Homo sapiens: one gene and its partner. The protein of the gene in region 2 interacts with the protein of the main gene of each other region in a pairwise test. Each region holds a gene or a part of one and is shown on either strand. Other genes may lie near its edges.

Region 1 (3,827 bases), on a different chromosome or scaffold from region 2:
TATGGGATCAACAGCATGGCTAACAAAGTTTTCTGACAGGGACAGTCAAAAAGGTATCTGACTATACAGTCTTGAGATAATTGATCCATCTGGGTCTCATTTTCTCATCTGTTATAAAAAGAAGGGGAGGAGCTAACCTAGATTATTTCTGTTATCTCTTTCAGTTTTAAAATTCAGCTAAGAAAGCTAAGAAAAGCAAAATGAAATATAAATAGAAAGGCCTAAAGGGACTACAAGAGAGATAAGCAGAATGGTAATGAAAAGACTGTCTGCTTTTCATTTCTCATATTATAAAACCACCTCCATATTTCATTTCCATTAAATATTGGTGTTGAAAGAGTGAGACCATATGGTCAACTCCCAATTATCATAGCCAATGGAGAGGAACACTGAAATGAATAATAGACAATGGCAGACAAAACTCCAGGCTTGATCTGAACCATGGTGCATGCCAGTTTGGGCATAGGAGAACCTGCTGCTCAGCCCATTGAGATACTGGTGAGAAATCCCACCTTTGAGAATACAGTCATGGCCTGCAGCTTTCCTTTGAGAGGCAGGAAACAGCTCCTGAATCATTTACAAATAACCAAGGTTGACAACTAAAAACCTAACCTAATGTTTTCTTATTAAAAATTATTTAAAGCTAAGAGCTATATTTTGTGGTTTGGATAATGTCATCCAGATTTTCTTACAATCTTTAAACTCTTTAATCACCTAAAACGAATACTGCCTCCACATGTATACTACAAACATGTTCTATCTAAGGATGAAATTATTTTTACATTTTTCATTAGAACCTTCAGTTTACCTTTTCTGCGTTTTTCAAGGTAGCCAGCCTTTAGAACAAAAGGAAGGTCTTGTGCTGCAATTGGAGGAAACTGGGCTCCTATGAGAAGTTGGGGAGAGAAAAAAAAAAGCAGTGGGTAATCCATTTCAGAATAAACAAGTGCCAGATCTCATTAGATTCAGTGTGCTTTTAATTACTGAAATTGTTTAAATCTAAGTCTATTAGCTTTGTTTCAGATCCATTCCCTAGATTAATCCCCTCTATTCCTCCTAAAAGTCTCAAAAGTAAAAAAAAAAAAAAAAAAAAAAAAGTTCTGTACTCCTATATGTTATTATAGCCTCCCAAAATACAGGACTGAGAAACTATTATAAATAAATGCAATAAATCCCTGAAAGAGAGGTTAAGAATTTCAAATAAATCATAGCTTCGTTATATTTATATTGAATTAACTCTTTAAAAATTTCAATACATATTGACTCTTTCCTGCATAATCCCTATTCCTACCAAGTAAAACATAAAATGCTTTTCCGAATCAAATGCTGAAACTTGTTTCTCTGAGCCCACAGCAAATATTCTCTGTGTTTGTATTCAGAGAAATGTTATGGACATTCCACTGAGTGAGTATGCTTTAGGTTTTTATAGGGCATTTAAGAGTCTAAAACTAGACAGATCTGATAAAACTATTATAAACAAATACTGGATCCCTAAAAAAAGTTTTTAAATCAAGCAAAAGTTAAGTTGATTAGAAATTGTATATTCACGGTCATGGATTATAGGTTACTCAATTTTACAAGTGTTCAATATTTTTATAAACTTCATTAGAAATATAATAGTTATCTGCCGGGCGCAGTGGCTCACGCTTGTAATCCCAGCACTTTTGGAGGCCGAGGCGGGTGGATCACTTGAGGACAGGAGTTCGAGACCAGCCTGGCCAACACAGTGAAACCTGGTCTCTACTAAAACTACAAAAGAAATTAGCCAGGCATGGTGGCGGGTGCCTGTAATCCCAGCTACTTGGGAGCTGACGCAGGAGAATCACTCGAACCCAGGAGGCAGAGGTTGCAGTGAGCCAAGATCACGCCATTGCAATCCAGCCTGGGAAAAAAAAGAGAAAAAAACGAAAACAGAAAAGAAAAGAAATATAATAGTTATCCTCAGCATTTTACTAGAACTCTAGCAAGTGAAAACAACCAATCAAAAGAAAGTTTGTATGGAATACATCCAGTGGAAATAGTTTCAGTACAACTTAGGATAGAAAATGTGTTTGAGTACAAACATGTAATTAGAATGAATAAGATCTAGTATTTGATAGCACAACAGAGTGACTATAGTCAACAATAATTTATTGTACATTTAAAAATAACTAAGTGGCCGGGTGCAATGGCTCATGCCTACAATCCCAGCACTTTGGGAGGCTAAGGAAGGAGGGTCGCTTGAGCCCAGGAGTTTGACACCAGCTTGGGTAACACAGTGAGACCCCCATCTCTACGAAAAATTTAAAAATAACTGGGTGTAGTGGTATACGCGCCTGCAGTCCCAGCCAGTGGAGGAGGAGGGTAGAGGTGGGGGGAAGGGGGTCTGAGGTGGGAGGATCCCCCAAGAGGTCAAGGCTGCAGTGAGCCATGATTGTGCCACTGCGCTCCAGCCTGGGTAATAGAGTGAGACCCTGTCTCTAAATAAATAAATAAATAAATAAATAAATAAATAAATAAATTAATAAAATGAAATAACTAAACAAATATAATTGGATTCTTTGTAACAGAGAAAGAATAAATGGTTGAGGTGATGGATACCTCATTTATCCTGATGTGATTATCATGCATTGTATGCCTGTATCAAAACATACAATATGCCCATAAATTTGCCTATTGTGTACCCACAAAAATTAAAAATTAAAAAAAAGAATGGGTTTGATAGGAAGTTTATTATTTACAAACTCATCACCTAATTTTACCAGTTTTTTTTTTTAATACCATGGGGATCACAGTAGTGATAAAGTCATGGATATTTTTTCTTAAGAAATAAAGCTTAAAATTAGAGCACTAATTTCAGCTCCTTGGTGGATCAACTTCACCCAGTAAACACCACACAGTATCATTAAAACATATTTAAAATAGAGCCCTGATTTTGAAATGTATATGAAATTTTAGGGAAAGTCAGTGTACATATTTTAATAGCTGTTCAATAAATGTATCCAGTTTTTTTCAAAATAAACTTGGTACATATAAAGGTATAAATTATTTATTATAGGATTTTGTACATAAAACAAAAATTACAAACAGAAATCTTATCTCTGTAAACAAGTCCTGGTGAACCACTAATCTAAAGTGGATAATTGTGGAATGATCTGGTCTCATTAAGGGGTAGTCCCACAACCCTCTCACTTCCATTGGGCATAATAAATGCTCTTTACATAAGGAATGGATGCTCACAAAATCTTAAGAAAAGTTAAATTATTCTGAAAAGAAATGGGTACCTTTAGCATAGCTTTCAACTCTAAAATGTTACTGGTCAAAAAGGAGACAGAGAGAGATGGGAAGAAGGGAGAGGGGAGAGGAAGTGGGGGAAAAGGAAAAGGAGAAGGGAAATTAGAATTTACTAGCGTTCAATATACACATAGCCTGAGTCTTTTGCTTTAAGAAAAGTGTTGACTAAATTTCCACCTGATACATCACAATAAAATTTGATGTCATAAGCAATACTTGTTCTGAATTCTAAATTCATGTTTCTAATATAAAATCTTTGATTTCTTCCCTGGGGAGTGGGGGAGTACATTTTTTTTAACTGAAATTTCATTTTTCTAAACCTTTATTGCTGTTTGTCCAATATCCAGGATTTGCTTAATAGCCATATGAATTCTTTAAAACACAAAAGTACACTAATAGCAATCCCTGTAAACACTTTAGATTTTTAAATTTTCAGAAGAACCATTTGGTTTGTATATCATCATGAGCATATGGACAATACTTTCTGATGGCAGGGATGGAAAATCTGTTATAATATATAAAAAAGTAGTAATTTCCTTTTAAAAAAATATGAA
Region 2 (3,827 bases):
CCCCTAGGAGGGTCTCTGGAATCAGCTCTCAAACTATTTGCATTTGAAACCTTGCCTAGGGTCTGCTTCTGGAGAAACTCAAACTAAGACATATACGCCATGATGGACTAGTGTGTGTATGTGTGTGTGTGTGTGTGTGTGTGTGTGTGTGTGTTTTGACATAAAAGGAATTGTGCTGCAGGAATCATGAGTAGTATCCTCCTCAGTTCTCCCCCTTTTTTTTTTTTTTGACAGAGTCTTGCTGTTGTCAGCCCAGGCTGGAGTGCAGTGGCAAGACCTTGGCTCACTGCAACCGTGCCTCCCGGGTTCCAGCAATTCTCCTGCCTCGGCTTCCCAAGTAGCTGAAATTACAGGCGCCCGCCACCACGCCCGGCTAATTTTTGCATTTTTAGTAGAGACGGGGTTTCACCATGTTGGCCAGGCTGGTCTTGAACTCCTGACCTCAGGTGATCCACCTGCTTTGTCCTCCCAAAGTGCTGGGATTACAGGTGTGAGCCACCGTGCCCAGCCTCAGTTCCATTTTTTTTTTGGATTTGGGAACTGAGGCTCAGAAAGGGAAGAGATTTGCCTAGTGCATCACAACCTGTCTTTGGCAGAGCTGGCACTCAGACTCGGGGTCGTCTACTGTACTGTACCCACTGTTCTTCATTTCTATGGTAGAGATGAGGCTGGGATTCCTGTTCTCTTGGCTGCACTTACATCTCCTGGGCCAAAGGATTTCAGGGTGATGCCTGGAACTCAGGGAGGTGACTCGAAGGGAGAGTCAGGAGCGCACGTCCTAGCGCAGTGCCATCCAGAGGATGCAGCATGTGGGACCACAGCCGGGGCCAAGACCAGGGCACATTTACACTTAAGCACAGGCTGCTTCTGCATCATTACCCACGCCTCTGAAAGTACCTTCAAACTCCCAGTCCTGTGGGGGAGGAAACTGGAGAAATGGGGTGGGGACCAACATGTGGTTGGTGCATGTGGTGGGGTTTGTTTAGAAAGGCAGAAGTGATTGCTTGATGACTTGTGGTATAAAAAAAGAAAAATAAACAACAACAAAAAGATGTAAGAAAGAAAGAGGCTGAGAGAGATTGTGCTACTAACTTGCTGTGTGACTTTGGGAAAGTCAATTACCCTCTCTAGGCTTCACATTCCTTTTCTTTTCTTTTTATGAGACAGGGTCTTGCTCTGTCACCCAGGCTGGAGTACAGTGGTGCAGTCTCAGATCACTGCAACCTTCACCTTCTGTGCTCAGACGATCCTCCCACCTCAGCCTCCTGAGTAGCTGGTACTACAGCCATGTGCCACCACACCCAGCTAATTTTTGTACTTTTTGTAGAGACAGGGTTTTGCCATGTTACCCAGGCTGGTCTCGAACTCCTGAGCTCAGATGATCTGCCTGTCTCGGCCTCCCAAAGTGCTGGGATTACAGGGTGAGCCACCGCACCCAGCCCTTCATGTTCCTTTTCTATAAAAAAGGAAGCCTTGTCATGACCCGAAGGGTGGGGTTTGAAAACTCAAATGACTATAGGGATGTGGAGGGTTCTGCGGATGAGGAAAGTGGGCCTGGCAAGGGCTGTGCAAGCTGGACAGCCCAGGTGTAGCCCCCAGGGCAGCCCCCAGCTCCACTGAGGTTGTCTGAAGAGCACTGGAGTCGTGGGTTCTAGTCTCAGGGCTGCTAACTCTTCTAATGTTTTAGGAGACAGAAATCCAGATTATGTGAGCTCTCCTGAGTTTAAATGTTAGCAACTAATTAAAAATAATCGCTGCGGGTGGAGGGGTGTTCGGGGAGGGCAGCTGAAATATCTCAGGCAAGGGAGGGAGGAGGTTGTCCAACATTCATTGCGTTTGTCCCATCAGTGTTTTTTTGAGGCCCTACTATGTGCCAGGTGCCAGGTGTTAGAAGATACAGTGGTTTATAGGACAAACATGTTTGTGCTCTTGTAGAATTTACTTTCTAGAAGAGTTTAAAGTCCAAGCCCTGGCTAGTCCTTAGAATGTAGACAACTTTCTCCTTACTTTCTGAGGTAAGAGCCCTCAGAGGGCAGCCTGGTTTGAATGAGATTAAGATTCGTGCTTTCTGTACCCATTAGAATGGTAATAATAATACTAATAAAATATAAACATAGTAGGCATTGGCAAGGATGTGAAGCCAATTGAAACCCTTGTATATTACGGTGGGAATGTAAAATGGTGGAAAACAGCATAGCAGTTCCTCAAAAAGTTAAAGATAGAACTACTGTTTTTTTTTTTTCTGAGAAGGAGTCTCGCTCTGTCGCCCAGGCTAGAGTGCAGTGGCTCGATCTCGGCTCACTGCAAGCTCCGCCTCCCGGGTTCATGCCATTCTCCTGCCTCAGCCTCCCGAGTAGCTGGGACTACAGGCGCCCACCACAATGCCCGGCTAATTTTTTTGTATTTTTTTAGTAGAGACGAGGTTTCACCGTGTTAACCGGGATGATCTCCATCTCCTGACCTCGTGATCCGCCCGCCTCAGCCTCCCAGAGTGCTGGGATTACAGGCGTGAGCCACCGCACCCGGCCACAGAGATAGAACTTTTATATGACCCAGTAACTCTACTTCAGGTATATACCCAAAGGAATTGAAAACAGGTGCTCAAACAAATACATGTATGCACATGCATGCTCATAGCAGTATTATTTTCAATGGTCAAAATGTGGAAACAACCTGAATTTCCATCTGTGGATAAATGGGTAAATAAACTGTGGAATATCCATACAATGGAATATTATTTGGCCACAAAGGGAATAAAGTACTAATAGTTGCCACCATGTGGATGAACCTTGGAAAACATTATGTTAAGTGGAAGAAGCTAGACACAGAAAGTCACATAGTATGCTTCTATTTATGTTAAATATCCTGAATAAATTAGTCCGTAGAGGCAAAAAGCAGATTGGTGGTTGCCAGGGGCCGGGGGAATGGGGGGTAATTGCTTAATGGGTACAAAGTTTCCTTTTTCAGGGGTGATGGAAATGTTTAGGAGCTACTGACAGGTAGTGTTTGTACAACATTGTGAATATACCAAATACCACTGAATTGTTCGCTTTAAAAATCATATAGTTAATTTTATAAAGTTATGTGAATTTCACCTCGATTAAAATATTTCTAAAAATTTTGAACTATATAAAAGATTGCTCTGCTAGAAAGGTTAAGCAAATTATAATACAGGCAAACAGTGGAATATTATGCAGCCACTAAAAATTTAAGAACATTTTAATGACCTGGAAAATGCTACAATGTAATACTAAGCAAATAAATAGGATAAAAATAATCTATGTGTAGCATTATACTAATTATGTTAATTTAAAAGTGCATAGAAAAGACTACATAAAGATACATGAAAATATTGGTTATTGTTCCCTCAAAAGGTTCATGCTTCCATTTTCTTGAACACTTATTAAGTGCCAGGCATAGTGAGTAAGGCAAGTGAAGTGCCTTACAGCAGAGAACATGAGGCCTGAAAGAAAGGCCATTGATCCAGAGACGGCTGGGAGATCAGCAGAGCAACATTCTTCTCTCTTCTCTGCCCCAGAGTCCCTGGTGACCCTTCTGGGCTACAGTACTCCTCTCACACAAAGGGGAGTGTGACAGGTGCCCTCTCTGGGGAGCCATCCAGCCTTTTGGTGTTTTCCTCAAGAACCACCTGTACATGGGCCGAAAGCTACACATCCAGGATGCTCCTGTCAATATTGTTCGTTGTAGTGAACGCCTAGGAACAACTTGAGTATTTATCCACAGGGGAAAGAGAAATACTGTAGAGTCGTTACCTGCTGGGATACTCCACAGCAGCTGGAAGGAATGAATGAGGCCTCTATTTTCTA

The links.
Region 1: the proteins of HCK (region 2) and SKAP2 interact in a protein complementation assay, tested with the Homo sapiens proteins (one study listed by BioGRID).

What each region holds. Positions count from the first base shown.
Region 1 is NC_000007.14:26,739,079-26,742,905, forward strand, and holds part of SKAP2 (src kinase-associated phosphoprotein 2), read right to left. Parts: intron 3,294-3,827; exon of another isoform or gene 3,264-3,293; intron 887-3,263; coding exon 809-886; intron 1-808. UniProt on the Homo sapiens protein: May be involved in B-cell and macrophage adhesion processes. In B-cells, may act by coupling the B-cell receptor (BCR) to integrin activation. May play a role in src signaling pathway.
Region 2 is NC_000020.11:32,054,933-32,058,759, reverse strand, and holds part of HCK (tyrosine-protein kinase HCK), read right to left. Parts: intron 1-3,827. UniProt on the Homo sapiens protein: Non-receptor tyrosine-protein kinase found in hematopoietic cells that transmits signals from cell surface receptors and plays an important role in the regulation of innate immune responses, including neutrophil, monocyte, macrophage and mast cell functions, phagocytosis, cell survival and proliferation, cell adhesion and migration.